6 separate regions of the Homo sapiens genome follow, and all the other regions are linked to region 1. The links come from fine-mapping of genetic effects on gene expression. A gene starts in region 1. Each other region holds a variant in brackets. All regions are shown on one strand. Distances are from middle to middle. Region 1 holds the start of PTPRE (protein tyrosine phosphatase receptor type E). Region 2 overlaps PTPRE (protein tyrosine phosphatase receptor type E). Region 3 overlaps PTPRE (protein tyrosine phosphatase receptor type E). Region 4 holds the start of AS-PTPRE (lncRNA antisense to PTPRE protein-coding gene). Region 5 overlaps PTPRE (protein tyrosine phosphatase receptor type E). Region 6 overlaps PTPRE (protein tyrosine phosphatase receptor type E).

Region 1 (5,131 bases):
GGAGAAGAGGGGGCTCCCATCAGGGCACAGTGCTTCAGGACCTCCTCCAGGCTTCCGTGGAGGTGGCGGTGCTGACACAGGGAGCGCATCTCTCTCTGCCAGCTGTCCCCCACAGAAATGAGAGGTGGCCTCTGTGTGACTTTCCGCATTGTCCTCACTTTGTGTCCACACAGGGCCTCCAAGAAGCATCACACGTAAAGACAATAACACCCTCATCGACTTCCCTCAACTGGTTTGACTGGAACTGATGAGGGAGTGTGTGACTAAGTCCCAAGCCATCTGGACACATCCAGTGACCTGACCTTTTACAGAGACAAATCTAGCTCCTAGCTCTTGTCCACATGGGAACGGTCTGTTGGGGCAGGGAGGGGGCGGTGGTGACTCACAGGCATCACCAACATCAATGAACAAAAATCTTGGCCCCCAAGGTCAGATTCAGGGGCAGAGCCTTGTCTGGGAAGGGCTGGGTGGTACGTCAGGCCTCTCTCACTGACAGCGCAGCCCCCACCTCTTGGGCCTGCTCCACCTCGCCTCTGACCTTTTGCTCCCCAAATGCCAAGAGCCTGTGCTTGGAAAGTACAGACCCTAACCCTGTTCACACCACAGAGCTCTGCCCATACCATGCTGGCTGAGTGACCGTGGTGGTCAGACGCTTGCCCCAGCCACTGGCCCCCACCATTTCATGCCCTCCTCTGGCCATTATCCCAGTTTTGGAAACGACCCTCCACACCCCCCCTCCCCACCCACATACACACAGTTTAAATGGACAAGAGTCGTTAGTGTGCAGAGGCAGAACTTCATCCATCTTTGGGACACAAAGACCTCCAGACGCCCTGGGTCAAGGGGTACCTGGGGCCAAATGCAGAGCTGACTGGACATGGACACAGTAATTTCTGTATCACGTGATCACTCTTTGCTGGTGTTCATTCAACTCACCTATACGCTCATTCACTCTAAAATACAAGCAGAGAGCTGTATTCTTTCTTTGAGTTTCCTGGATTGAAACTCTGATGGAATGGTCACGACTCAAGACAAACCAATATCATAATTCTGCAAGTATAATTGCCTAATCTTTCTGGAAAGGTTTGCATGCCTGGAAGGAATTTAGGTCAGGTCCAGCGCGGTCTCCATCCGGCTTGGCTCTGCCTCCCCATCCTGTGGGTTGCCCGGCCTTCCCCAGATGGTCCCGGGAGCTCTCAGAATTGGCACCGCGCTCGCATCTGTGCTCAGGAGCCCTGTGAGGTCGTCGACCCTGCAAATCGCGGCAGTCCAGCCTGGACCACCTGCCAGGGTCTCCCTGCCGCATCTCCGACCCCCGGCGGCTGCTGCATCCCGCTCCACCTGCCTCCCTGGGAAGGCGCGGGCGCCCGCCCGGCTGCGGGGCAGCATCCTGGCAGAGCGCCGGCCCCTCCCAGAGTTGGCACAACTCGAGCCACTTTCTTCAAAGGCTCCAGCCTCCAGCCTCGAGTGGGCGCAGCCCCCCACGCGCGGCCTGCACCCCCTCTCTGTGTCGCCCGCTTTCACGTACGCCGCCCTGCCGCCGGCCCCCGCGCACTGTAGCCACCCGCAGACACGCGCGCCCTCCTCCTGTTTACCGAGAGGGAGCGTGAGCACTGCCACTGTGGTCGCCAAGTTGGGCTGGGGACTCCGGGTGAGGGGACGCGCCACAGGCCGGGGTCGGGGGTCGTACGGGCCCCAGCCGCTGGTACTGGGCGCGCCGCGGGGGCGGCGGGGCCGGGGTCCGGACTCTGAGCCCCGGAGCGGCCCCTCCCTCCCGCGGCAGCGGCCGAGGCAGCGCCCCGGCCTGCTTGGGCCTCCCGGGGTGCACAGTTCCCCACAGGGGCGCAGGGTCCCTGTCCGCACGCGCGCTCACCTCGGGGGGGCCGGTCTGGTCGCGCAGATCGCGCTGCAGCGGAGGCTCCGCATCTCCCGGGCGCCTGCCCGCCGCCCTCCGGGGCGCCCGGCTGTCTTCGCCGGGCGCGAAGAAGGGTCGCGGGGACGCGCAGAGGCCGTGGGTTCCTGAAGCCGCTCGCGCCGGCTCCTGCCGCCCGCTGTCCGCAGCCTAGCAGGAAATTTGTCCGGCCGGCCGCGTCCCGCCGCCGCCTCGGCTCCAGCTCCGGCTGTGGCTCCGCGGCGGGGGCGGGGGCCTGGGCGCTGCGAGGAGCGGGGGCGACGCCTGGTGCCCGGCGCGGGGAGCGCATCCAGGGCGCCCGCCCCACCTGCGAGGCGGGTATGGCCCTGAGGCCCTGCGGCCCTGCCCTGGGAGCACCCAGACACTGTGGGCATCCGTTTACTCAAGGCTGGTGCCCCTTCCGGGGAGGCCTGGTCCAGCCACTCCGCCGGGACCCAGGTGCGTAGACAGAGGGTCAGGGTATGGCAGGCACTCACACCTGGTGGAGAGCAAAGGCAAGGCCCTGCCTCTCCCTGCCCTATCCCTGTGCACCAGGAAGTGGCCTGACTAGGGACTCGCCCTGGTCTTGCAGCAGGTGTGGGACACGCAGGGCACCCCGTGCGCTTCTGGTGCGAGGAAGCTGGGAGAGCTGTGAGGTCGCTGGGCCTGGTGGCCTCCTCTGGAAAGAGGAGGGGATAAGGCGCCTGTCTGGGGGATGTAGAAGAGGGCTCGCTTGTCCCGAAGGCAGTATCTGTCAAAGTTAAAAACGCACAAAGAGAAAGAAGAGCGACAGAGCCAGGCACTGGGCCTGCTGTCTAGCCGACTTCTTCCAGGGAATTTCACTCAAGCTATTTAGGGAGCTTTCAGAGAAAAGGCAGTTCCCTGGAAGGAGCAGAAAAGACACTGGTGGCATGTTGGTTCTGAACCTTTGTGCCGTGCCCTCTGGATGGGGCCACGGCCCAGCCCTCATGAGGGAAGCTGCATTCTGTGGTAGGGACCCAGCTCATTAGGCTTATGAATGAATGAATGGATGGGGAGAAAGTGGCACTTACGGTGTGTTACCCCACGTTGCACCGATTGCCAGCCGACGACTCTTAGCATACTTAAGGCCTGTTTAGACAGAGCTACGGACCCCAAAGGCTGCAGAGCAATGGGTGCCTCCTGGCAGAGGCCACCCCCACGTGATTTGCCCAGAGTGGGACTTCCCCTCCACAGGGGCCGGAGAGCTGCGAAACCAGTGGAGAACTTGAGCTCCACCTCCCTGCCCTGCCCTGCCCATTTCTGTCCCTGGGGGCCTTGTCTAGCCCCAAAGCTTTAAACACCATCCGTATGGGAATGACTCTAAGCAGCACCACTCTGGGGCCCTCTCCTCCAAGCTCAGCTCCTCCTGGCTGTCTCCTGCTGTCTCAGACCTGCCTCTTGCTCTTACTTAGTTTCTCTGCAGTCGTCCCTGTCCCTGCCTCCGTGTCCCACCTCAAGTCCACCTCCCAGAGGGCCCAAGTCCACTTCCCACTGGCTTCTCCATGCATCTTGCCCTTTCATCTCACTGCCTGCGCCCCTCCAAAACCTGCAGTGGCTCCCCAGCTTCTGACCCACTCTCCCAGATGATCCATTCTTCACACTTGGTCCCAGGCACCTCACAAAGTGTAAACCGGGTCCTGCTAGCCCCCTGCTTAAAAGCCTCCAGGAATATTAAAACCCAAACTCCCACGAGGCTCTGCCTGACTTCCCTGGCTGCTCTGAGCCTCTCACCCCTGCCCGCTGGGCTCCAATCACGGCTCCTTTCTCTCAGTGCCAGAGCCAAGCTCCTTCCTGCCTGGGACTCCTCCAACCAGTGCACCTGGTTCCTTCTTACTGGTGGCTTCTGGAAGATCGCCCTGCATCCATCTCTTCTGCCACTCTCTTCCACATCCTCCATCACAGTTTGGAATTATTTGTGGGTTTATTGGCTCCTTTTGTGTCTGTCGTGCCCTCTTCCCCTACCCCCAGGGCTGTAAGCTCCAGCAGCCTAGGCTCTGTTGATCTCCATGGCTTCTCAGACTCAAGCTCCTAAAGCAACGTCAGTAGCCAGGAGGTGCTCAGTGAAGGCGTCTGGGCTGTCAGAGCAGAGGAGGATGGGCCCCAGCCAGCAGCAGCAGACAGCCTGGTCACCTCGGAGCCCAGCAGGGCGGGTGGCTCCCTCCTGAGTGCACCTCCAAGGAACAGCCCAGGTTGAGGTGGGGCCAGGTAGCACATGACGTCACCAGGCTTTGGATTTTTCTGCTGTTGTGGTCTACAGAGTCAGGCTTATGTACATGAAGGCCATAATTACAAAGCTCTGCTAAGCACAGTTTTGCTTGTTAACGCTGCAGGGCTGAGGAGGCAGAGACTGTGAGCTAAGAAGACAGAAACAACTTGCCTTTGTCAGACATCTGCTATTGGAAAGTGAACAGCCTTGGTAACATGATGGGGAGGCAGATGGCTCTTCTTTCCTCATAATATCTTCTCTGCTGGACCCCAAAAATTCTCAACCCTTTCTAAAGTCTACAGACATTCATCATTGTCACACAGAAGCGTGTTGTCAGAAGTGTTTGTGCCAGGGCCCTGTTGATTACCACAGGGAAGCCCTTCATCCTTCTTCACCATCTTCATTTTTGCCTCTCATAGGCTCAAGGTCCCTATTGACATCAGAGTCAATTCCCCTATCCTCCTCCCAGGCTTTGAGGAGCTCCTCTGCCTCTTGCCCTCCTGAACACCTCACCACTCCTCTTTTAGGGCCCTTCTTGAGTCCACAGAGTCCTCTTCAGCTCCCTGGCACACTGGCTGTCTGATCCTGTCTCAGGCCTGTCCGTGGCTGGCCTCCTGCCCGCTCTCCCCAGGCCTCCCCTACACCCAACCATTTAGCCCCTTCCCTCTAAAACACAGCTTGAGGCAGTGCTCCTGCGATTATTGATATTAACTGCACTTACTTGTCTTGTCTTCTATTTTACTTGAGGACTGGGCTTTTGGGTTTCTCTGCAGAAACTGAGATACTGCCCATCATGCTTAGAGGGCCCAATAGATGTCAATTAAAATTAAAATGCTGAGGCCAGGAATACTGTCTAGGAGAATAAGCAAAAAAAAAAAAAAAAAAAAAAAGGCAAAATCAATGTGTGGAAAGCAAATAAGAAGTTGCTTTTAAACATCATACAGAAACATTCTCATAAAGTTATTCAACCTTAGGAGGAAAAAAGCAGGTCTTGATCATTGATTGGCTGTGGG
Region 2 (5,131 bases), 180 kb before region 1:
CATTATAATCAGAGCAAGATCAAATTATAAATGTAATCAAAGAAAATATGATAGTTGAAACTGTAATAACATACATACATTATAAAGACTGCACATAAGTTAAACACAACTTAGTTAAACAAACAAACAAAAAAGTATCAGTAATTATACACTTAAAAGAATAACATGGGGATGTCTCCAAATGCTGAAACACAGGTGTCAGGCTCATTTAAAAAAGTGTTTAAAAACACATAAAAATACCTTTTAAAACACTGGTATGCATTCTTCATTCATATAGCACATGGAGAGAAACCGTAAAGGCAGTCACATAGTGACCAGATCACACACAGATCAGAATGGTCGTCTTCTAATCACTATTTGGCATTTGAACCCAACTGCATGCAACAAAGGAAAGTGTGAAAGGAACAATGGTGTCGGCACTGGGCTGTTTGGGGGCTGTTTTGTTATGTACAATGGACTTTCTTTGACTGAAGGAAACAAGAGATGAACTTTCCAGGTTGCACGGAGAAGATTCTGAGTCCCTCAGGGATTGATTCCCCCAGCGTGAGGTGCTCCAAGGCCCAGGAGATCCTGTGATCTGGGGCCTTGGTAGAGGCCATGAGGCTGTAATGACCTCCCCGCTAAAGGGCGAACGCTGTCCCGGACAGTGGAGGGGAGAGTCTTGCGTCCTGGGGAAAGTGGCTTCTCCTTTGTTCCTGGAATGGAAAAAGTTTGGGAACAGGCAGAACCCCTGCAGTGGACACCTGGGGTTGGTCTAAGGGGACAGGAAAAAAACATGAGCAGGGCCCTTTCCTGAGGGCACCCTGAAAAGGTCTACCTTAAAGGTACTTCTTGATACAAGAGATGCCAGTTAGACCATTAAAGGGCTTCAAGGATTCTGACAGAGGGCTCCTAGACATGAACCAAAGCCGGTGCCCCTCGACTTTGACTTCGAACTCTCAAATAAATGACCAGAGAAATGTCACCTTCATCGTAGCAAACTGGCTCTTTTTCTAGGGTTCAGGTGCTGAACAGAAGCTTACTTCCCTCTCTTCTCCTTCAGTCAAACAAAGGCTTTGGGTTTGGAATTTTAATGGTGAAAACAAAAGGGACCTGGCGAGCCTCAAAAAGCTCCATTTTCCTCTTCCGCCGAGATGCTGAATCATTGTACAGAGAAGGAGAGAGGAGCACGTTCAGCAGTGTGCAGCCCAGGCATGCAGCTGGTGAGGATGGCGGTCACAAAGTGTGCTTTCGTCCTTCCAGCTGGGCACCAAGTCTTGCCCTTGGATGGGGCTCAGAGCCGTGGAGTGGGCGAGAAGCTTGATTCCCTGTGAGCATCTATCAGAACAATAATGTGTCCTGGGGTTGCATTTGCACACACTGTTAATGAATAGGGGACGAACACTGCAACATGAGGGTGCGATCAGTTATCAGTGAAAATGTCAAATAAGGCCTTTATGTAGCTTTTAGAAAACAAAAAAAAAAGTACCAAAAATGCACGTGTTAAATGCTTTTAGTAGTAAGGTAGGCCAGATATCTTTTTGTTTATATTGTGCACATCTGCTAGGTACCTAATGGCCATAGAAAGATAACTGCTGTAAGATTCAGTGTTGGTACATTCACACCCCATTCTTTTTTTTTTTTTTTCCCCGTCAGTCAATCTTATCTGGTAATGGGATCATTACTGTTATCCAGTGTCAATGGTCTCAGTAGTATTTCCATTCAAAAATAATTTAGCTTTTAGATTAAGGATTTCTCTTTTTGTTTTATTAAACATTGAAAGGTGGGACTTTAAAAAATGGTATAAATCTAGATTTTAAGGATTCTTTTCTTACAAACTGTCTCAGCTTTTTACAAGAAATGTTTAAATACCAAAATGCTGCTCAGAAAATTTAAAGTTTAATTGCCCGTGGTTATTCTACTGTTTCTATCCTAATGTGTGCTCCTCTGTACTGCGTGTGTAAGACGCTCAGTTCATCTGAATGTTTGGATGGGAAGTTTTGTGTTGAGCCTCCAGGCATAGCACTGGACCAGCCCAGGCCGCTGTGGCAGAACGGGAGGGGAGAATGGGAGAGGCAGCTGGTTTTTTTCTGAGGGTGGTCTGGGCCAAACGACAGGCAGCTGGACAGCAAATGGTGCTTTGGGGTGTAACTCCGATGGCTGGTTTTGTTGTACCCAACGCCGTGGGTCAACGGGACCACCCAGCATTTACATCTCTTCTCGTTCAGCCAAGATAGTGTAGACACAGTCTTGATGGTGTAGACACAGCATTTT[A/T]AAATATTATTTATAGTCACCAGCTACTCTAGTGTGTTTTAGACCTGGATTCAGGTTGTAAAGACTTCTTTGATCTTTAAAATGTAAAGATAAACCACATGGACCGAAACTGAGAACTTTACAGAAGTCCCCATTTACATTGTACCATCACGAACAGTTTGCCTTCCAAAAATGCTGCTGTTCAGGGTTGTGAATTCACTGTTAGGAAAGTGCATTTTCGAACTGACTTCTGAGTCCTCAACTGTTTTCTTAACATGAGCTTTGTGTTAGTATCTTGCAGAGGCACACTTCGCATATTAAGATTACAACATTTAAAGGTGTTGAATATGTGAAATTAAATGATATGAATCTAATGAAAAATTAAGATATTTACTAATATTAGCAGAAATATATATTTTATGGGATATTATTTGACCTTAATACATTATTCCAATTTTTAAAAAGCATATTTAAGATTTAACAACTGTATAGCAGGTGGCCTTTAAGGCATAACAAAATATATACAAAGAAATTAGGGAAGATATTAATGTCAACTATGAAATAAATTAACATGATTTTTACAAAATATACTGACCATTAAATTAAAAAATATTTTAAGGCAGGAATCTTCATTTGAAATTAGCATAATCAGAAAATATATCAATAAAATCTTGTACCACTTTGTAGCAGAATTCATACTGTTCCTGAAAAGACAAACAAGGACACATTAAAATGATATTCCCAAAAATATATTTGATTAATCAGGAGAAATACTCAAAAACAAGACATAAATAAGTGTGACTATTCATTAAAATACCATATACCTTTATGCACATCGTAATTTAGTTTTTAGGCACATGCAGAATTCCAAATAAAGCTGTTTTTCTACGTAGAATGTGTCAGTTAGTGTATTAACATTTCAACTTAGTGTATTTAATGGGCTGAGTTAAATGTCTGTGGCTTTCACATTGAAACTGGAAAACAACTATTTTTGAATTTAAAAAAAAAAACAAAAAACCAGGCCAGGTGCAATGGCTCAACGTCTGTAATAAGAGCACTTTGAGAGGCTGAGGCAGGAGGATCACTTGAGCCCAGGAGTTCCAGACCAGCCTGGGCAACATGGTGAAACCCCATCTCTATCAAAAAAGATACAAAAATTAGCTGGGCATAGTGGTGCACACCCATAGTCCCAGCTACTTGGGAAGCGGAGACAGGAGGATTCCTTGAGCCCAGGAGGCAGATTGCAGTGAGCCAAGATTGTGCCACTGCACCACTGCACTCCAGCCTAGGTGACAGAGTGAGACCCTGTCTCAAAAAAAAAAAAAAAAAAAAAAAAAAAAGAAAGAGAAAAAAATCAGAGTACTAACATTGCCAGATAAATTTCATAAAGCGATCTATAAAAGTTAAATAAAATGCATATCTAGATTATTTTAAAGCCTACATTTACTGTACAAAAGGGACATTGTTTTATATATAGGCTGGTCCTCCCAGACCCCTGGGTGGGATATGTGAGTTTGGGGCCGGGACAGGGGCTTGGAAAGCCGGAGAGGCCAAGAGCTGTCCTCAGCACCTCCCTGCTTCTTTCCAACACATTGCACTTGGGCTCTTCTCAGCACACAGTGAACAAATATCTAAATGCTTTTGGGTGGAAAGATGCCAAACAGCTAGCTTAGCCCTTCCTGAGTCCCGGTCTGGCCAGGATGGGAAGGAGCTGAGTTTTCCAGAGAAGGAAAAGGTGAGCCTGAAACTTTGCTTCTGAATTTGCATGAAGTTGTTGGAAGAGCCAAGACCACATTGTAGGGTCCTCACTTCTGGCTACTAAGACACGCAGCTGATCACCCAGCCTTCAGAAGGAAAGGGAATTGAATTCTTAGAAGGAATTCTCAATAAATATACAGGCTCTCTTTAAAGAGGCAAACAGCTTAAAGCAACATTGACTTTTCCAACTTAAAGCAACATTGACTGAATATCAAAGCTGGCTCAGTCTGGGATGGAAATGGAGACGATCACTAATTACTCTGTTTTCATAGCTAACACAGCAGCTAACTGCTGACCATCCCACGTAGTCTCGAGTACAAGTGATTGGGGCCAGTGATGGATGAAGTGTACTTTGGAGTGTGCTCGGATGATACAAGCCACACCTCAGGTCACAGACAGACATTTCTGGTCAATCCACAGACTCCAGGAGAACAGATGTACTTGTGGCCTTTGAAATGTCAGTTCCAACCAAAGCCTACCTAGGATGCTGGAAGCAAGTCTTCCCTGAGTGCTCAGCAATTGGAAACTGGTTCTTGGGCCACTGTGCTCACCTGCAGGGCTAAATCAACCTGCAGGTCAGCAATCATCTCTTTACTCAATAATATTTTTGTGCCTGTGTTTTTTTTTTGCCAAAATCTCCCTGCCAAATGTTAGATCTGGCAGCATACAGTACTAGTTAAGCCTTTCCCTTCTGGAATCAGATAGAGTTTGAATCTCATTCTGACACTTAATACCTGAAGATCTCAGGCAGGCCCCTCAACCGTCCTAACTGGAGGCACCTGCAGAACACTCCTTGTGAACAGAAGCAGGCACAAGGGCAAGCAGATGGTGAAGATGAAATGAGAAAGACATCTGTAAGGCACCTGGTTGCACTGCGCCCAACGCCTGATGGTTATTTAGTGACTCTTCTCCCTCATTCGTTTGCTGATTCACCACTTGCTCTGGAGCCCTCGCCACGGGCCAGGCATTGGACTAGACCCTTTACTCTAAAAGTCAGGCTACAAAGTGCTCTGTCAAGCTGTTACCAGGCAAGAGAGCACAGATGACAGCCACACAACATCTGAGGGCAGCTTCTCAGTCAGGGAGCATGGAGGGGCAAGCTGCGGTCAGGAAGAGCACAGCTGAGACGGGAGGACACCTG
Region 3 (5,131 bases), 160 kb before region 1:
AAATACACAGCAGTAGTTATGTCTTGGGGGAGAACCCAGATAGATGTACATTGTTGGTAAACCTTGGGTTTACTGTTGTCTTCATGTCTTGAAAAAAGTCAATAAATGTCTTTTTCTTCAACAGGTTATGATCTTGGCCAATACCAAATGGCAGAATTTCAGGGCAGGTTAAATAACATGTAGGCTAAGGATAAAGGGCAGCGGGTAGCTATGGTTAAACCTCACTCCCAAAAAGGGAAAGGGTGAAATGAAACCTTTTTCATTTCCAATCTCTCTCCTTCCCTAGTGGTCCTGGCTTGGTCTCACCCATGTGTTTGCAGTGATGGCAGGTGGGACATTTGTAATGAACGGGGACAGTGCCTCAGGTGCACAGGCTGCCCTGGAGGGACCGGGCTGGGCGGCACTCCTCACCTGCTCTCTCTCCTGCACCTCCGTCAGCATCACGATAGTGTGGGATTTCCATTCCCAGATCATCCTCCAGAAGTCCTCAACCGTGTGTGCCAGTGGCCCCTGGGTGGCGATGAAATAGTCCTTCTGTCGGTAGCCCTTCAAATGGAGGCGCAGAGGTTAGAGTCTGACTTCCTTCCATCCTGGCTCCATTACCTGCTCCCTAAGTTTAGGACAGCCTAAGGCCTAATGAGGAAAACTCTCTCATCCTCCATGGTCTGCACCAGACCCCAGTTGGCACGAGCACTCAGGCACACACCTGACAAGCAGGTCAAGAAGCTCGCTTATCTGAAACCATAACGGCCACCGTCAGCCCCTGAGGTCATCAACAAATGGGTATTATGAACTGGTAGTTGCCTGTGGCCACCTGAACAGCACCTGGTGGCTTAGATTCTAACATGTTTCTGTGTGTTTCAGCTAGATCAGCATGGAGCCCACCGGATTCTGGTACAATTTTCTCATCTGCAAATGGCAATATGAACACACACTTGGCTGCCATTCCCCCTTTTGCCCTTCTTCTGCGAACTCCACTGTGCATGAAGACAGCCTCTGTGTGCCCTGAACACATAATTGTATTGTCCACGTGGGTACACATTGCAGAAATCACACAAGAGAAAGAGCACAGAGGCAGTGGATATATAATTGGTGTGTAACAGATATGTAAAAGAAAAATAACTATATATTAAAAGCAGAATGAAAAAAGAGCCAATTACTTAGCAGCGAGTCTATGTCCTTCTATTTCCAAAGTCCACTTTTTTTTTTTTTTTTTTTTTTTTTTGAGAGGGGGTCTCGCTCTCACTCTGTTGCCCAGGTTGGAGTACAGTGGTGTAATCTCAGCTCACTGCAACCTCAGCCTCCCGGATTCAAGCAATTCTCCTGCCTCAGCTTCCCAAGTAGCTGGGATTACAGGCACCTGCCATCACGCCCAGCTAATTTTTGTATTTTTAGTAGAGACGGGTTTTGCCATATTGGCCAGGCTAGTTTCAAACTCCTGACCCCAAGTGATCTGCCCGCCTTAGCTTCCCAAAGTGTTGGGATTACAGGTGTGAGCCATCGTGCCTTGCCACTTTTTTTTTTAAGCAAGTAATTCTGCTAACAAAAATGGCTGAGTTTCTGGAAACATGTCAATTCTTTCTCATTGTGAAAACAAGCTAATCAAGTCTGTGGTCACATGTGAAGGAAACACATCTGCATAAACACAACCCAGGCCAGCATACGTACGTCTATGAAGGATGCGTTGATGTAGTCTGTGTATTCTTGACCCCTTTTCATGGAAAGGATCACTCGGTTGAAGTCATCTGCAAAGCATTATCTTCCTTTAGTTATTACAAAAAGGGTCCCACCTTGCTAACTTTAATCCATTGCTACAAGCTTGCAAAATATAGATCCTATTAATAAAATCACTACGTAAAGCCAACTCTTTGGAAAGTTTACGTTATGAGAGACGATAATTAAAGTGGCTCAGGGGTATTTTTCTTTTTGAAGGAAAACTCTGAAAACCACCCAATTATCATTTTCATTTTTCAGGAATCGATATAATACATACCAAAATACAAGCACTAAAAATATTGCGCTGAAGGAGTAAATGGAATGTGGCCAGGCAAGCAATCTAGAGTGGCCAGCAGGACACCGGGGCCCCAGAAAACCAAGGGCCAGAGTCTGAAGATGGCAGCACCCCGGGGAGCTCTACTCGCCTGCAGTGCTCGGGGAGACCCTGCTGCAGCAGGCCTGCTCCCAGCTGTTTCCAGATGGTGTTTGTTGAGCTGTGACTCTGTCGAGGACAAGTCTATAACGAGGCACACCCTCCTCCCAAGCGGGGCATCTCCCACCTCCCTCCCTAGTTCCTCGGATCCCTGTGGAGTCTGCTTTGGGGCCGGGTTTCTCAAGTTTCTCTTTTTCCCACTTGGTGAGCCTCCCGATTCCCACTCCCCTGCCCACTGCATGTGGCCCTGTCTTCTTGCCAGCTTTGCCTCCACTCCTCCCACACCTGCCAGGTCCTCCTTCCCTCTCCCATGACCTGGGTGGCAGACCAGTGTCCTGACTCTACCCTAGGCCCATTTCTTGTCCTCCTCAAGGCCACAGCCTTTTCCTAGGTGGTCTCAGCTGAGTTCACCTGCATGGCCTCGGCTGGGTGGCTCAGGCCCCTCTGTGTAAGGGGGAGGCGGGCCTCTGCCCAGGCTTGGGGAGACAAGGAATGAGACAAGGAATCCCAAGTCGTGCCTGCCGCAAATCTCCAGCTTCTGTGAAGCCCTCCCCTGAAATCAGCCTCGGCTGCCCTCCCGCATCTGCAAGCTCATATCC[G/C]AAGCAGCTTGCCTGAGACCCATGCAGGACTGTCTGGGTCAGCTGGTGCTTCACAGGTGTCTTTTCTACCTGACATTTGGTACAGCACACAGGAGCCCTTAGCCTGAGGCCAGAGGACACCCTGCTTTTGACCCTGGTGCACAGGGGTAAGCGGTCAATGGCTTCTCCAGGATGAAAGCCTCCGGCACCAGCCCCGCCCCAGCCCTGCCCAAGCCACGCCACGGGTGCCTTACACGGGATGATCTGGATGACCCTGGCCTTCTTCATGTTTGCCGGCAAGTTGCCCGTCCTCATGTTCTCCTTCATGATCCGGACATTTGTCAATTTCTGCAGCAGAGAAGGATATAATGACACAGTTAAACCTCTGACACTCCTGAGCACATTGCTCAGCCGAGGACTAGTGCTGCTGGCAAGGACGCCTGCTCAAAGGAAACCACTCTCCAACCCAGGAAGCCTCCTTAGCATTGGGAAATACAAATGTGTGCCTAGTAGGGCTGCTATGAGGCTCTGAAAGCCACCTGATCCTTCTTCCCTTGTAAATCATGGCTCAGGTATTGCCCCTGCTTTTTCTGAGGTCAGTTAAGGGGCAAGTGATTGAAAGAGGCTTCCTTTAAATGGTCACCTGTTTTCCTCGTGCCCTTGGCTGCTTACACCAGGATGGAGAGGAGGGTCAGCTGTACTCACCCTGAACTCCTCCTCCAGCCCGATCTTGTCGAAGTGGGTGGTGGTGCCGTGCATGGTCTGCAGGTGCTTCTCCAGGGAGGACACGTCCAGCTCTGTGTCCCCGTAGAGGTAGTACTCGAGTAAGGCTTGGTAGATGAACGTGTACTGCATCTGCAGAGAGGCCAGGGGTGCCCACACCCTCAACTCTGCCCTGCAGTCTTGGCCCACGTGGAGCTTGGCAGACCAAAGAGGGCGGCTTTCTTCTTTTTCTCTTTTTGCCAACACAAGGAGGTGTGAGGCAAGAGTCAGAGTACCGGCCACGGATAACGACCATTTATGCCCTTGAGTAAGGAGAACGGTAGCAGCAGAGCCTCACATTGGTGAGCACGCCACGCACTGTGTACATGCACCGTTTGGGGGAGTAGGATTGCCCCATCTCACATGAGGATACGAGGGAAAGATGAGGACGAGGGAGTCCCTGAGGTCCCACGCGTGGGCAGGGAAGGCTATGGGGAGCGAAGCCAGGCCAGGCCCAGGCTGGTTGCCACGTGCCCATCAGAGCCAGGGCCCTGCACACCTGTGTGGCGAAGGCATCGGGTTTGCTTTGGGAAGCTAGATCAGGGCAAGAGGAAGGCATGACTCACATCCGTTTGAACCATCTGAGGGCGCTGATTACGGATTCGAGACACAAATTCAAACACATCCACCTTCTGCTCCGCGTGCATCATGGCCATCATGGCATCGATCACAATGAAGGTGCCCGTCCGGCCCACGCCCGCGCTTTGGGGAAAGAGAAAGATGCTGCGTCGTGAGTCACACTCCTCCCGAAGTAAATGAAAGGCCCCGAAGGGGCCTGCGCACCCAGGTCACTGGATGCAACTTTTTGTTTTTTTGGTTAATTAGGAGCAAAGCTACAGTGCAGCCACCAGAGGGAGCTGTGGTCTCAGTAAAGTGATCTCAGGCCGGTCCTCTGATAGCCACCGACACTCTACTAAGAGGCACATTAACAGCTGGTGCAGTAAGCCTCGGATTAGGCTGTGTGGAGAATTTTTCTCACTTACCAAACAGTGTCTTCTTCTTATATGTGTGATTGGCATCCTAGATCTGTCCCCCTGGGAGCAGAGGGACCTCAGATCAACTATGCAACAGCTCTGGTATCCAGCCTCCCTCTCTGTCAAACTGGGCAAACCAAGTCATCTGACTCGGGGCATTAAGTGAGGTGGCATCTGTCAGATTACTGTTATCTGACCCTGCAAATTCTTCCCAGTATGAGCTACACTGGAGGGTGGGTGGGGTGGGGTCCAGCCTCTGCTTGGCCCCAGCAAGCGAGTGTTGCTCAGACTTGGGGAAAGCCCGTTCTTCGGGGGTTCCTGGACGGCTTCTCGTGAACACCTGCATGACAGGTGCAGAGCGCCTGCATCACTGCGTGCAGGTGGCTTTTGTCCCTGGCAGTGCTGTGATACTCAGAATGAACCTGTCTGTAACAGATGGAAACTTAGTATCTAATCAAAGTGATACCCTGGTGAGGCCAATCACTGCCAGGAACAAGTGGGGCTCTCTGTGGACAGGGGGTTGTGGGGTGGCCTTGGCTGTACATTTGAGTAATTCTTCATGTTGTGCAAAGCCCACCCAGATGCCAGTCACAGGCTCCGCCGAGGCTGTCCTTCCCATCACAGGTGAGGAAACCGAGGCTGAAGTGGCAGCTGGCGAGGGGCAGCCT
Region 4 (5,131 bases), 160 kb before region 1:
CTGCTTCCTGTGTTTTGGGTGGCAATTAGTAAGCTGGCACTGCGGGGACCAGAGCACCTCCCAGCCTGCCCTTCCTGTGGGCTCCTGCCACCCATCTTCTGCCCCAGCTGAGCTCCCCAAGGCCTGGTACTCCCATCTAAAAATGGCAGCCCTTCCCCACAGTCCTCGCTACAATGCCTGGGAACTGCTGGGGCCAGGCCAGCAGATGACTGAGGAGCTCAGGACACAGCAGGCCCTGAGCAGGGCCGGGCAGGACACACGGCTCCCACTGAACCGGGCCTTCATGCCAGAACACGCCAGAAGCACAGCCTCCTAACTTCGCCCCACCTGTGGTAAGTGTCCCTCAGGCTCCCAGTTCTTCTTTCATTCTGGAGAGTGAGCTCACTGCCTATGGCATGGCTCCCTGCCTGTCACTCAACCCCACCCCCGCACCCAGGCTCCCCACAGCCACCACTTCTCAGCCCTGAATTTGAGCCCCTACTCCTTGCACCTGGGACAGAGCTGGCCCAGCACAGCAGATGCTAATGAGTACTTGTTACATTAGGAAACGAATCAGTTCAACTTTTCTTCTTTGTCAATGATTCAAATTCTTATAACGTACATGCATCCTTTTTTGAATTAGAAACAGCTAATTAAATATATTCGGATGACAAATCAACATTTCTTCAATATACCAACGTTTTCCAAAAGCATTTCTCTAGTCTGGATAATAAGCGCGAAATCATGTTCATTTCTAGCCTGAGCTCTGCCGCATGACACGCTCAACATCCTAAAACTCTAAGATTCATGTCTCTCATCAGGCAGGCAGAGCCATGGGGCCAGCCGGGGGCCACTCTTACTTGGGAAAAAAAGGAAACTCTTGTGTCATTGTGTTATCACAGATTAGATAACAGTGAGATGCTGGGGACACAGGGGATTTGTTTCGTGAAGAAAATGCTGTAAGCCACTGCATGTGTTTGGGTTTTTTTCTGCAGTGATAGTGGGAGGAAGGGAGGGAAGTAGGAAAAGGAAGTGGTAAGAACATCCCCAGCCCGGCAGCAGCAGCTGAAAGGAAGTGATACCGGGGCCAGATGCCTGGAACTCACCTCTTTCCTTTCTTTCAAGTTTGTTAACATGACGATGGTCGCAGACTTTTGCTCCCAGACCATTCTCCAGAAGTCGTTAACCGTTTCCTGTTTGGGACCTGTGTGTAGAGGACAATTTCGAAGTCAAAAGGCATGAAGGGAAGTCCCTTTGGGGTCCCAGCCCCGGCACCCTGGCCGTTGGCCCCTGGACAGCTGTTCACTCCCTTCTCAGGCTTGTTGGGGACACACACGTCATGCCCTGAAGCGTTCCGGAACCGGTAGGGGCTGCCTGTCCTGCCACTCACCCACTCCAGCTAGGAACTCCTCAGTGGGCAAGATAATTGGGCCCAGGTTGAGTTATGACGTTCACAGGTAAGAAGCAGGGTTCAGATGAGGGCTGGGTCTACAGCCAAGTGTGGGAGAGCTGGTGAAAGCCTTGCGAGAGGCAGAGACTGGCCAGCCTCACCCTGCATTCCCAATCCCCTCCTCTTTGTCAAAATCTTACTCTCAGCATGGTGCTGTCCAATACGATATGAGCTAAAGTCCCTCGGGAGGGGGATGTGAACAACAGACAAAGTGTCACTAGGAGAAAGTCCTCTGCCCCTATCCACTTCCTGTCTGAGCTGCGGCTATTTTGCAGTCCCGAGCTAAGTGCTACGTGCTGAGGGGGATGGGCGGGGAGATAAGGAAGCCCCTGGCCCTGCTGCTGTCCTGCCGTGGGCTAGCTCCCTGTGGGTGTCTGCTGGCAAGAGAGAAACACATGCTTTCATCTGCTTCAGCCAGGATCGTCAGGTTTCCTGAGGTTTCCAGCTGGGCACATTCCTGATGGCCTCTGCGTGTGCACATGTGTGTCCTTTTTTCTTAGAGATTCTGCATTTGTAACAACTTCCCAGGTGATTTTGATGGACGCTGACTTTCAGAGCTCATTGCCCTAAAGACTCCTGGCCTAAGAGTGAGGAAGTCTGAGGAATCTGGTTTCAGCTCCACTGATATCTAACCGCACGTACACCAGGTCCTGCAGATGACAACCTCTGGTGGAACGGAGTGATGCTGGATTCAGTACTCAACACACAAGGTAGCCCTGTGCAAGGTGAAGGGCACGTTTTCACAGCTGAAGTATATTCTTAGTTATGGCCTTGATCTGAAAAGCTATTCACCCCACTAACCCCTCGCCCAAACTTGGGGAGCCATGTAGGGCTCAGCCAGCTGAGAGAAATTCAAGGTTATCTGACGCAAGTATTAACAAGCTGGAATGGCAGCCGGGGCCA[T/C]TGCGTGCCCTGTGTTCACACCATATAGGTGTGGGAATAAGTGTGTGTTTCTCTGACTACACATATCCGTTGTGTGAATGGATATCTAACGTGTCTGTTAGGTGTAAACACACACACACAAATCCAGTATAAGTCCTTGGTCTTGTTGGCATACAGAGAAGGAAATAAGAGCTATTCACGTTACCAAAAATACGTTGAGAAATTAATAAAAAGCTTACCTTGAGCTGCTATGAATTTATTCTTCTCTTTGTAACCCTAGAAAAAATAACATCAGATTTATATTTTTTCAGAATTATCTTTGCTGAAAGGATTTGTTGGTGTTGCTGTTAGGAAAGCAGTACATATTCACCATGGAAAATTTGCAAAACACAGGAAAAGGTTAAGAAGGAAAGAAAACTCACCAGCAATTCCAGAAATAACAAATCCTACTTCATACGTCCCCTCTCTAGTCTGTTTTTCTGCCAAACCTTTCCCAGACTCACCCACAAGCAGACATGCAGACATTTCTGTCCTCTAATTGGGTGAACATGTACAATTTATTTTATGTTGTATTTTTAATGGGAATTTTATAATTGATATTAAATGATCTTTTAAAGATTAATACAAATCAAGTTCTAATAGTCCACTGCACATGGTTTTACCACAATCTGTTTAACTACCCATGCTCCCTGTTCTATTTGGTCAGGAATATACATAATGCTGTAGTGAACATCCTCTGTGATCATCTCTGTCTCTTGAATTCAAATTCCCAGATGCTGATGCCAGTGTGTAAAGCACGGGCAGTTCCGTACCCTTTGTGCTTGTGGCCAAACTGCCCAGAAAGGTTGTGACAATTTACACTCCGGGCACCAGACAAGAAAGTGCTTACTGCTCATGCCCCAGCTGGGCCAGGGGAACAAGAAACCTCTGCCCACTTACATCTATGTAGGAAGCATTGATGTAGTCTGAACAGGGAATTCCATCCAGTTGGCTCAGAATCACCCTAGAATGGTCATCTGGAAAAAAAACCCAAACAAAGCCAAGATATTAGGACCAGGAATCACAGTGCTGTCTCTTCCAGAAATCACAGTGCTGTCTCTTCATCTGCAGTGTCAGCTCCTGGGAAGGGCAAAAGCAGCTTCACAGCGACACCAGGGATGGCAGAGATGTTCTTCCTCAGCGTTCCCATGGAGAACACTAGTGTCCTGAGAGAGAATGCACCTGCTTTGGTGAACACTGACTGTCTCAGCTGTGGCATGACGACAAGGGTAGGATTTCAGCATCCAGGATGGGGGCTGCTGGGTCATTACATAGCAAGAATAGCAGAATGTGCCAGGCCCCTGGCAGTGCAAGGGCTGTATTTTATGAACCCTGCACTGGGCCCAGCCCCAGTGTTGCCAAGTGTGGGTGCACTTAAAAGAGCCCCAGGACAGGAGAACTGGGTCCACTCTCCCAGGCTTCCCAGGGAAATGAGCACCAGCCCCATGAGGACAAGTGGATGTGGGGGTCTAGGATTGGGGACTCTGACCCTCAGTCCCACCACCGGAGTCTGCCCCAGAGCTGGAAGGCGAGCACAGTGAGGAGCGTCTGGTAGATCCAGCCTGTTGCACAAGCAGTTTTCCGGGGTAGAAGGCTGACCGTGGAGTGCTCTGTGTGTGGGGTGTGTGTGTAGTGAGTGTGGTGTGTGTGTATTGTGTGTGTGGTGTGTGTGGTTGTGTATGTGTGTAATGTGTGGTGTGTGTGTGGTGTGTATGGTGCATGTGTGTAGTGTGTGTGGTGTATGTGTGGTGTGCATGTGTGTAGTGTGTATGCTGTGTGAATGTGTGCATGTGGGTTTGGTGTGTATGTGTAGTGTGTGTGTGTGTGTGTGTGTAGTGTGTGGTATGTGTGTGGTGTGTATGTGTGTGGTATGTGTGTGATATGTTTGTGTGGAGTGTGTGGTGTGTGTGTGGAGTGTGTATGTGTGTGCGTTATGTGCGGTGGGTGTGTAGTGTGTGTGTTGTGTGTGTGTGTGTGCATGTAGTGTGTGTGTACACACACGTCAGGGCTCCATCATGACTTTTGTGGGTTGTAGTCACTTCTGCCTTTGCAGCTTCCTCCATAGAACTATTAAGAAGGTTATCTTAGGACTGGGTTGGTCGCCAGTGAAAAGATGCACTCCAGAATGGGTTTTGCACGTTTTGTTTGTGATTTGAAGAGAAATGAAGACATTTTCATGGGCTTCTAAAAGTGCTGTGGGCCTGGCCCTGCTCCTCCTGTAACCTTTCCCAGGAACGTCCGGCTCGGCCAGGCTGGGACCAGGCTGGTTCTGAGGACGTTTATGCTGCACTGGGCACAGAGTCTGGCATGTGGTAGAAGCTTAGGGTCTCCTTCCTGAGTCATTACTGAGTAACTCTAGGTCCTCTCCCTGCTTTCTCTGCTTAGTCTCTGATCAGGGTGGGTTGTGTTTGTGGTGTTTGTGGCGTTTGTGATGGGGAGCCGGGCAGCCCCCAGGTCATGCCTTGTTTGTCTCACCTTCACCTGGAAGGCTGCCAGGTGGGCCACGGGCTGGTGGCCTGCGACCTCCGATGGTTGAGCCAGCTCTGTCGGGCTGCCAGCAGAGAAAGGGCGGGTATAGCTCTGAGAGACAGTCACAGCCCACACAGGGTGGCCAGGGAGTCAGACCCCAAACTTACAGTCCTGCAGACCTCACTGTGAGACCCTCCTGCTCAGGGACTGGCAATGCCCAGGCAGAAATAGCTCTGCTGAACACATATAACACTAGTTGAAAATAATTTGGAATGGTTTACGCTTTGAGGACAGCTATAGAAAAGCACAGGG
Region 5 (5,131 bases), 140 kb before region 1:
CAACACTTAGCACAGCCACATGCAAGAAGGTGAAGATGCATAAAATTCAAAACACGACCAAGGATAAATACTGAATAGCAAAATCCAAGACAATACTTCCTCATATCTGTTTGTCTACTTCTCTATCTGCCCATCCATCCATCCATCCATCCATCTGCCCTCCCACTCATCCATCCATCATCCATCCACCCATCCATCCATCCATCCATCTGCCCTCCCACTCATCCATCCATATGCCCTCCCACTCCATCCATCCATCCATCCATCCATCCATCCATCCATCCATCCATCCGCCCTCCCACTCATCCATCCATCCATGCATTCATTCATCCATCCATCTGCCCTCCCACTCATCCATCCATCATCCATCCATCCATCCATCCACCCATCCATCCATCCATCCCTCTGCCCTCCCACTTATCCATCCATCCACCCACCCACCCACCCATGTTGATACACAAGCAGATATAGCTAGTGTTCTCTCAAGGCAGCTCACAGCTGCTTCATTAATGCCGAGATGGTGGTTCAGAAGAGGAACATCGCCTACTCTGATTAGGTGCTCCAGCTCTCAGAAGCCATGAAAGGATGGTTTGGGGCTCTGTTACTTTCCCCATGATATTGTCATACCGTGCCGCGCTCAGGTCCTAGCCTTCTGTGTTATCGAGATAACAGTGTTTCTGCCACAGTTGATTTTAGAACTTGACACTCAGAGTGGGGAGGTGTAAGGAGGCTTCACAAACCTCTAACTCAACTGTCTCATCTTATAAATGAGGAAATAAGCATTGGCAAAGGGCACTGCACCACACACCAGGTTTCCTCACACGCCCATTCATGGGACAGTGTCATAACTGATGCAAGGGTTCTGAGTCTTTGGGATAATTCATCCTGAACTCTAACACTGGATTTCACAGGTCTCCACCACAGGGCACCCAGCAGAGAGCCCTCCCCACACTCACGTTGAACTCCTCCCGAAACTGCTTGCAGTCGTCGGCGGATCTGATACGGATCTCCTCCTCCAGGTGCTCCACGGGGATGGGAAAATACTTCTTGGGCCCTGAGGGTGACCTGCTGAGCAGCATCACCCTTTGCTGCTCTGTGGGATCAAAAGAAACATGGGGGCCATTTAGCCACATTCCTGGATAGGCGACTGAGTAACCAAGCTGACCAACGACATTCCTGAAGAAATGACCAGGCTGGAGCTGGAACAGTTCTCTCAAATCGCATAGCTGGGCTAAGCCGGGTCCCGAGCAGCTGTATCCAAACACTCGCCTCCTGTGAGGCATCCACATCATTTACAAGTGACGGGCGTCCCTCTGCCCAGTGTCACCTGCTCTCCCCCATTGGAGACAGCCTGTCCCCCTCCCGAGGCCACTCATCCACCCACCCTCCCACCTCTCCTTCCCTCCAGCCCCTGCTCCTTCCAAAAAGGATTCAAGACGGCCTCACTCTCCAGCTCAGCTTTCCAGGTTTGGAAATAAGAAAGAGTAATTACGGCTTCTGGGAGCAAACTCAGAACGTTCTCTCTCAGCCTTTTCTTCTTCATAACAAATATTCCTGGTTCCTCAAACCCCATAAGCTCCAAGGGAAAACCACCCTTGTCTGGGGAGGGTGACAAGGGGCATTGAGAAGGAGAAGTACGCGTTATAAGGGAGTTCTTGGACACATTCCTTCCCCAAGTTCGGAGTGAGAGGCAAGAACAGTTATGGACATGTCTTTCTCTTCCTGGAGAATGAGCTGATATTGACAAGGTCAACATGATAACCCAGCTGTCACACTTGCAAAAGGGCCTGTCCCCACCTGCAGAGCCATTCTGAAGCCCAGCCAAAAACTTCACCCAAGACTCATTCCTCCAAGTGACAGATGGGATCAGAATGAGTGATGCTGAGCTTCCCTGCTACTCACTAGCCGCACCCTCCTCCCTTCCGTTCCTGCTATTGAAACATTCAGGGCAGGGAACCGGGGACTGGAACGAGGGCAGGAAGACAGCACCTGGTGCCACATTATCGTCTAACCAGGTCTCGGGTCCCGCGAGCGCTGGGAGGCTACATTTCAGCTGGGTCCTTGTTGGTGATATTCTTTTAATGATCTAAGGGTCCGTTTTAAGAGTCTATTTTAGTCTGACGGCACGTGTGTTCCCCCAAACCATAGAACTGACTACAGTTAGGTAGGAAGCTGACTCCAGGAAGTTGTAGTCACTGGGGTGTGAAGCAATATTTTTGTGGCCTCTGCCTTACACACGTTTCTCGGTCATCTCATCTCTATGTATGGAGAGAAAAACAATGTTCCTTTGTAAGTAGCGACAACAAGTTCGAAACTGTACTTCGGATGGAAAAGTTGGAAATGCTCCCAGCTGACTCTGATGCTCTGTAAACATGAAGCACTTCAGGAGAGCGAGTCTCTTTTTCCAGCTGGATCCTAAAGCAGTACAAACCCAGCTGAATAGTTTCTGAGCCAGACAGTCTTATCTGAGAATGATTGTAAGGCCTCACTGAAAAGTGTTACATGTCAACACCCTGTGAAAACGACAGGATATGAACAGTCTCTCTAAAAAAAGCCACAAACAAAAATGTCTCAAACGTCCATGTCACACCCGAGAGAAAAATGATCCTTAAAGTTTTGAAATAGTGAAATTCTAAATGACAGCATCATACCAGGTAGAGTGAGATGAAAGTGGCAAGGCACACCTCAAAATTTACTTTGAACGTTAAAGGCAGAAAGCACCTCAGTGTCTGCTAAAAAAGAACACATTTTCCCCCAAGCCCCAGCCAGAGAGCAGCTTCTGTACCTTGCTCCTCCAAGATTCCGTTGGGCATCTTCTTGTCGCTGGTGCTGACCACAGCTTTCCTCTGCTTCCTGAACCTTAGAGACACAGGATGCGTTAGGTTTCCACACTTCTAGGTTCCCCGAGAGCCAACAGCGCTCGGCACAGTGATACCCACCAGGTGAGCCGGGAAAAGCTACTCCTGTTGCTCATGGCTGAGCC[G/A]CGCTAAGGCCTGGCCTCTGTGTGTCTCCCAGGCCCAGCCACCCAGCCTCTCAGCTGCCCTCTGCTGCACAGCCCACGCCCACAGCATCAGAAGGCTCATTTCCTCCTCTGAGCTGGTTGGGGCAAGTCAGTGCCCCGGGACACTCCTACCTGAAGAAGTAGGCGGCGAGAAGGAGCACGAGGAGGAGGAGCAGCAGCGGCAGTAGCAGCCAGGCCAGCAGCGGCTGGGAGGCGCCCGGGTCCGGAGGGCCTGCAGGAGAAGCAGAAAGACCCTAACCCCTGACCTCACTTCACAGTTTGCAAAAGAGTCTCCCTCCATAAGCCCTTCTTCCTGGACACCAGAACCCCAAACTATATTTTGTAAAGTGGATCCATCATCCTGAAAAGGCCCCACGAGGTAACAGAGAAGCGACTTTAGTTGTTGCTGTTGACTCAGAGAAAGAATCCGGGACTGAGGAGTGGGTGAGGTGACTTGTCCAAAATCCCTGGGGCAGGCATGACAGGGGTGAGTTCCCCAGACCCCCACACGGCCTGGCTGCCTGGCTCTCCTGCTAAGAAGCTGGAGAAGGGTGAAGGGGCCGGTGTCCACTGCAGGGTCCTAGGACAGCGCGGGAGGCTGACTCGGCGTAGCTCAGCTCTTAGGGCCCCTTGGGCTTGGGCAGGAGCTCAGGCACAGGGAGGCGGCCTGGCCCTGGGGCTGGGCAGAGGCCTGTGGCCCTGGCGCACTGTGACCCCACCTTTCAGAGCCTCCAGGTCCCGATTCCACCTGTCAGAGGCCGAGTGCCCAGCCACCACCGGCCTCTTACTGTGTCCTTTGTACCTGACAGGTTGACCTTCCTCACCCAGAAAGAGACCCACAGCCCCAGGCCCAGCTAAGTGGCTTTGTTGCTGCTCAGGACCCACCCCTGGCTCATCAGCCCAAATTCCAAGGGACACTGGTGGCCTCGCTGCCACCTTTGGACCCCACCCACTCTCCCAACGTCGCACTTTGTTCCTGCTCCTCCCCCGCTGGCCACACAGCCCCCTCATCACCAAAATGTTCCCACTCCTCGAGGACAATCTCAAAGGCCCCCACCTCCAAGAAGCCCACTGGACTCCTCTCTTGTGGACCCAGAGGGGCCCTGGATGCCTCAAAGCGCAAACCTCGCTCTGCCATGAGTGAACAGGCCTCAGCATGACTGCCTTGGCTCCCGGGTTTCTGGGGAAGCCCCTCGAAGGCAACGACCGGGCTTCCAACTCTTTAAGTTCCCAGAAGCACCAATCACTTGCCCTGAGCCCAGCGCAGGGTCCATGCGCTTCCTCCTGAGGGCTGGCACGGCCTCCCGAGGGTGCTCCGGGCACTGGGAGGGCTCCGCAGCCCCAGAGGCTCCGCTCACCTCACACCCCTCATCTGGATTCTAAAAGGGACCCTCATGCCTTCCGCCTTGCACCCTAGGTTATAAACTCCCCAGGGAAGGTGTGGCTTTTCCTCCCTCATCCCCTACCCTCCCAGGCCTGGCACTGACTCTGGCACCCTATGAGTGGTCCGCACCATCGTTTCTCATAAATGATGAAGTTTTAGGGACGTGGGTGACCATTAGATGTTGAAGTTCACAGAGGAAACAGCTGGTCTGTGATGCGGAGGTGGCCCCAGCCGTGAGAGAGGGCACTGTTCACCTGGCCCACCCACTAAGTGCCCACCTTCCAGGTGGGGTCCGTGCCTCCCCCATCTGGCTAGCAGTGTCAGTAGCCTGGCAGCCTGGCTGTCCTCTGCAGCCCCCACACTCAGGTGTCTGTGACCCTGGCCCAGAGGAGCTGGTTCTGGCCCCACACAAGGTTCGGTTGGTGCTAGGATGAGTGGCTGGGTGTGGCTGCCACAGTCCCCCGCCTTTGACCTCCAACCTGCCCACAGCAGAGCTTCCCTGGGGAAGTGAGCTGGCCTGAGGCTTCCACACTTGCAGCTCCAGAGAGCACCCCTCTCCACTCTGCCAGGGCCCTGGAGCAACTCCGACAGGCTGAGTGGGAAGACCCCTGACACGGAGGGAGGGGCAGCCTGGAGCCCAGCCCCACGGAGGGCCTGGCTGCTGCTCACACTCCAGACTCAGCCAGAAAGCTTGGGCCTCGGTCCCCCTCCTCCCTCTCGAATGTACCCAGGTACATCTGCCCTCA
Region 6 (5,131 bases), 150 kb before region 1:
GCGGTTCAGAACCTACAGGGTTTGTCTTGGCACCAAGACAGGCTGTGAAAGCTGCCCCCAGGTCACGACCCATCCAGCTGGAGCAGGTCACCGAGACGCACCCCCGCACACATCCGTCTGCTCTCTGGCCCTGCCACCTCCTGGCACCCACGCTCCCCAGCCCATGCCCACTTGTACTGCTGGGGTTAAATCAGGTCGATTCAGAGCCTTCCTACAAAGCTGCTGCCCACCTACAAATTTCGTATTCTATTATTTTTGTCATTGGTCCAGGACCCCAGACAACTCTAGGGATTTGCAGCTTGTGGTCACAAGCACTGAGTCTGAGGGAAGGGAGCTGCCCAGGGCCACTGGCAGGCCTAGACTGGGTGCCAGGCCTGAGTTCCACAGGAGGGGCCCTGCCAGCTGGCACCCATGGCCACGAAGCAGCACCCTTACCCGCTGGGCCCCAGGCAGCCCAGGTCCCAACAGTAAGCATAGGCTTGGCAGCCAGACCCACGAGCAACCAAGGTACCCAGGGCCTGTGCAGGGAGATGGGCACCTAAAGAGGAACGTTCTGGAGTCCTAGGTGCAAATGCTGAGCAGTTAGACTGATTTGGGGCCTCTGAGCACCAGGAATGGCCTGCAGTCACGGGGAGCTGCAAGGCAAAGCTGAGTTTAGTGCAAACACCATTGATCATGCAAAACATAAAATAAAATCTTACTGGGAAGGATGTTGGGATATCTGTTTTTTTCTCTGTTTTCTTCTTTATTTGCCAGTTCAAAAGTTCCTTGTATGTGTCCAGATGGCAATGACTGGAAGAAAATGTAGCATTAGTATGAAATGTGATGGATTCAAGCACCATGCTCATGTCAGTTTCCCTACTGAGCACAGGAATTAATGAAAACACGTGGAGCAAACTACCTGCTGTCCATAGTCCGTCTCTGCCTCAGACCTTGCACCAGGCATGGGGCAGAGAATGAAGGAGACACAGACCCTGGCTTTCCCCAGGGTGCTCTTTCATGTGGGGTGAACAGTGGTGTGGCCAAAGTGATGGTCTCATCAGCCAGATCCTATGCTGCATGAAGGCGGAGACTTGCCTTTGCATTTCCATGGTATCTCAGGGCCCATGGACCCTGGCCTAGAGCAGGTGCCTATGATTTGGTAAGAACTGACTACGACAGAACTGTGAACCGGGAGATGGGGGAGCGAGGACAGGCATGCGGAGGGTTTACAGCGGGATGCTGTGACTTTGGGGCTGAAGGATGAATAGAGCGGTCCTGGGAGGCAAGGGGCGGGAAACAGCCTTAGATACAGTCCTGATCTTGCTTAAGACTCCAGGTGTGCTCTGTGGACCAGTGGCTTGGGCACTCCCGGGAGGGTGCTTGTTAGAAATGCAGATGCTCTGTCCACACCCCAGACCCACAGAATCAGCACGAACATTACCATGATCCCCAGGGCTTCAGTGCACACGTCTTTGGGAAGCACCACGCTAACCAACTCCTTTGTCCCAGTCAGGGAAGTCAGGTGTGCAAGGAATGCCGCGGGGCCCCTATCCCCTCTGAGCAGCATAACCGAGCGTGAACTCTGGTGGCCTGCATTCTAGTTCTTTCTGCCGCCTGCAGCCGCCATCTCTGATTCCTGGTCATCTCCAGCTGTCTCCTGCGTCTGCTCGCTGCTCAGGTGAGCTCCCCACAATGCACAGTGTGAAGAGCCTCTTGAAGCCCTGAGTCCTGTCCTTTGACATTACACCCGACCAGCGGCTGGACCCGGGGCCACTGGGATTCCAGTAACATGCATGAATATGCACTGAGTGTCTCAGTGCGCCAGGTACGGTGGAAGGAGCTGGGTCATCTGCCCCAGCCTTTGCAACTCACCTATCATTAGGTGATACTAGGATGGTCCCCGTTTTATGGGTGAGGAAACTGAAAGCCAAAGCGAGGTGTTATAGATTTGTCCAGGGTCACCCAGCAAGCAAGGGGCAGGAGCCTAGAGCGGCACCCAGACTACCAGGAGGATGTTCACTTCTTCAAATGTAGGAGAATGTGAGGGGTCCCGCTGCAACTACCCAGGAGAGCAGAGCAGGCCTCACTGCGTAGCTTTGGATCCAAGCCGTGCAGGCCTGGGCTTGCTCACAATGCAGAGCACAGCCTGACCTGCCACCCACAGGTGTCCCGAGTCTTCCTCTCCTGAGGGCAGGAAGCTTCTCCAATTGCAGACTCAGATCTGACCAGCTGGAGCTCATGGTGGGGCACCGTAGGCCGCCCTCTTTCCTCTGCTTTGGGGCCACCAAACCCCATGGCCACAGGTTGAGGCCCTTCCAGGCCATGGGGTTTGTTGGTCCCAAAGCAGAGGCAAGAGGGTGGCCTATGTGGAGGGACCTGTCTGGCGGCACTGTGGCAAGGGTGATAGGTGGTTCTTGGCCTCATCCCCAGCCACCAGCACCTACGCCGCCTGTAGTTCCTGATTCTTCATCAGGGCTATCTTAATACTGACCTTCTTGACCTAATCTAAGCCTGACATCTGTGGTAAAATTCTAGAGCCTTCTCTTTTTCTACCCGCAAAAGCTTTTTTTGGCCCCAGCACTGAAAATACACGGGAGGCATGATACCGGATGGTGGGTACATGATACTGTGCATTCGTCAAAACCCACAGAATGCGCAACACACAAACCCTGACGTGTGGACTTCTGCTAGTAACAACAGAGCAGTGTTGGTTCATCAATTGCAGCAGTTGAAACACACAAATGCAGGAAGTTAATAATAGGAGAAACTGCTCACAGGGGAGGAAGGGGGCATATGGGAACTCTGTACTTTCTGTGCAATTATTCTGTATAGCTAAAACTGCTCTAAAATAAAGTCTGTTAAAAGATAAATTAGGCCAGGTGTGGTGACTCACACCTGTAATCCCAGCACTTTGGAAGTCGAGGCGGGTGGATCACCTGAGGTCAGGAGTTCAAGACCAGCCTGGCCAACATGGTGAAACCCCGTCTCTACTAAAAATACAAAAATTAGCTGGGCATGGTGGTGGGCGCCTGTAATCTCAGCTACTTGGGAGGCTGAGGCAGTAAAATCGCTTGAACCTGGGAGGCGGAGGTTGCCGTGAGCCAAGATTTCACCACTGCACTCCAGCCTGGGGGACAGAGAGAGACTCTCTCTCAAAAAATAAATAAATAAAT[A/T]AATAAATTAAAAGAAATTGAGAAGGCTCCCTGGAGGGATTGGATGGCGAGGATGGACCAAGCTCTGACACCCCACGGTTGCGTGTTCCTGGCAGCTGCAGAGATCCAGACCATGGAGATGGGGCGTAGCCACCCAGATGCACAGAGGGTCAAAGTTGAAGTGGGGAGGGGCATCGGGCCCTGTGCACCGCACACGTATGTATCCTGGATCCAAGTGCACAGAATAACCACCCACATGGACTCTGCAGCCCTTTCTCTGGCTGTCAGTCTACTGGGGTCTCAAATCTCTGAGCTGCTCAGGTGGCCCAGGGGAAAGGAGAGCACCTGGAGGGGTCTGCACACCTGGATGAGCCCTGCAGTGTCTTGCTTGGGGCTTGCTCATAGTAACTGGCCAATAAATATTGTGTGATTGGCTGTCCCATTATGTAAATTGTCCAAATTGTTTGTGGTTTGTCTGTTTGAGGTGAGATTTCATTTCATTTCTTTCCTTTTTTAACATTTTTATTTTTGAGACAGGGTCTCACTCTGTTACCTAGGCTGGAGGGCAGTGGCGCGATCTCGACTCACTGCAACCTCTGCCTCCCGGGTTCAAGTGATTCTCCCACCTCAGCCTCCTGAGTAGCTGGGATTACAGGTGCACACCACCACGCCTAGCTAATTTTTGTAGTTTTTTGGTAGAGATGGGGTTTCACCATGTTGGACAGGCTGGTCTGGAACTACTGGGCTCAAATGATCTGCCCACCTTGGCCTCTCAAAGTGCTGAGAGTACAGGCATGAGCCACCACACCCGGCCTAGAGATTTCATTTCAATGAACTCATGAGCCACGTTCCTTTCTCTCTCCGCTCGGTAGTGTCGGGCAGGCAGCAGGAGAGTGTACAAGAAGCTAGGTGTGGGCAGTTCTGCAAGAGGCCCCAGCTGCTCTATGGAGCTCCAGGGAATGGTTCTGGTTTGTTTGTTGTGCTGGAAGCTTTGCGGTTGACACCTCCCTCTGCACTTTTACAGCACGTATCAGTGTGTTAGTCCTAGGCACTTGGCTTGACATAACTTGCTAGGATGGAGGTAGGGACGAGCCTGTCTGAAGCGGGGGATTTTCCTTGGCCCAGTGGTGCTCACTTTCCAGGACTTACTCTGGGGCCTGGAAGCAGACTTTCCTAGGATGGTGTTCTACCAGTGCAGGGTGGAGATTGCAGAGTGCGGTCTCGTAAGGATTCAGTTGCATGTCCAGGTTATCCAACCTCATGTCCATGTTATCACAATCCTATGGGGGGCAGGGAGTATCCTCATTTCATAGATGAGGAAACAGGCAGAGGTTAATTGCCCAAGCTCTCTGAGCCGGGACAAACACTCAGGCCGACTCCAGCATTCACTGTACTGACCCCAATATCAAATCCTTTTCATCCCCACCAAGTTTGCCTGCACTTTGAATTGGCAATGCACACATGTCAAAACTCAACTGGATCGGCCACTTTGAGACTCTGGTGTCTCCCTTTCATGATTTTGGGGAGAGGAGCTCAGATCAGACGGCAAGAGAAAAGAAAGATGGGGTTGGGAGCATGTCCCTCTGAGGACCCAAGAGAGAGCTGGCCATGGCAGGCTCCAGTGCTCTCAGAGGACGGGTGCTGCATCAACGTGGACTCAGGACATGGCCAGCCCTTCACTGGACAGATGAGCAGAAAAGCACAGCCTGGACATCACAGTGGGACCCCATCTCTACAAAAAAAGTAAAAAAGCCAGTGGGCATGGTGGCACATGCCTGTAGTCCCAGCTACTTGGGAGGCTGAGGTGGGAGGATCACTTGAGCTGGGAGGTTGAGTCTTCAGTGAACTGTGATCAGGCCCCTGCACTCCAGCCTGGGAGACACAGCGAGACCCCATCTCAAACAAACAAATAAAACAAAAATATGACAAAAAAGCAGCTCCCCCAGGGTTCCCCAGACACAGGATCAGGCTCCGTGATCCTGACTTTGGGTCCAGTG

The links.
Region 2: its variant is fine-mapped to the expression of PTPRE in whole blood (INTERVAL, PIP 0.95).
Region 3: its variant is fine-mapped to the expression of PTPRE in whole blood (TOPMed, PIP above 0.99).
Region 4: its variant is fine-mapped to the expression of PTPRE in whole blood (TOPMed, PIP above 0.99).
Region 5: its variant is fine-mapped to the expression of PTPRE in whole blood (TOPMed, PIP above 0.99).
Region 6: its variant is fine-mapped to the expression of PTPRE in whole blood (TOPMed, PIP above 0.99).

The regions. Positions count from the first base shown.
Region 1 is chr10:127,904,052-127,909,182 of GRCh38, reverse strand. It overlaps PTPRE (protein tyrosine phosphatase receptor type E), which reads right to left and starts at 2,080. Exons shown (of 21, transcript NM_006504.6): 1 at 1,874-2,080. RefSeq lists a silencer at 2,117-2,236.
Region 2 is chr10:128,080,637-128,085,767 of GRCh38, reverse strand. PTPRE (protein tyrosine phosphatase receptor type E) reads right to left here. Exons shown (of 21, transcript NM_006504.6): 21 at 1-2,936. The coding sequence ends at 2,862. Among named protein-coding and RNA genes, the nearest start is that of AS-PTPRE, 21 kb to the right of the region's middle. The variant A/T (reference allele first, on the strand shown) is at 2,254.
Region 3 is chr10:128,068,752-128,073,882 of GRCh38, reverse strand. PTPRE (protein tyrosine phosphatase receptor type E) reads right to left here. Exons shown (of 21, transcript NM_006504.6): 13 at 4,056-4,191; 14 at 3,433-3,582; 15 at 2,982-3,075; 16 at 1,669-1,745; 17 at 412-546. Among named protein-coding and RNA genes, the nearest start is that of AS-PTPRE, 8.9 kb to the right of the region's middle. RefSeq lists a silencer at 4,347-4,544. The variant G/C (reference allele first, on the strand shown) is at 2,749.
Region 4 is chr10:128,059,135-128,064,265 of GRCh38, reverse strand. PTPRE (protein tyrosine phosphatase receptor type E) reads right to left here. Exons shown (of 21, transcript NM_006504.6): 8 at 3,251-3,327; 9 at 2,551-2,587; 10 at 1,086-1,183. AS-PTPRE (lncRNA antisense to PTPRE protein-coding gene) reads left to right here and starts at 1,841. Exons shown (of 3, transcript NR_136150.1): 1 at 1,841-2,139; 2 at 3,422-3,579. RefSeq lists enhancers at 160-758, 1,098-1,307, 1,718-1,767, 1,099-2,298. The variant T/C (reference allele first, on the strand shown) is at 2,333.
Region 5 is chr10:128,045,492-128,050,622 of GRCh38, reverse strand. PTPRE (protein tyrosine phosphatase receptor type E) reads right to left here. Exons shown (of 21, transcript NM_006504.6): 4 at 3,134-3,233; 5 at 2,786-2,859; 6 at 957-1,093. Among named protein-coding and RNA genes, the nearest start is that of AS-PTPRE, 14 kb to the left of the region's middle. RefSeq lists enhancers at 2,835-2,884, 3,185-3,254, 4,663-5,131. The variant G/A (reference allele first, on the strand shown) is at 2,984.
Region 6 is chr10:128,051,784-128,056,914 of GRCh38, reverse strand. It overlaps PTPRE (protein tyrosine phosphatase receptor type E), which reads right to left. Exons shown (of 21, transcript NM_006504.6): 7 at 702-792. Among named protein-coding and RNA genes, the nearest start is that of AS-PTPRE, 8.1 kb to the left of the region's middle. The variant A/T (reference allele first, on the strand shown) is at 3,156.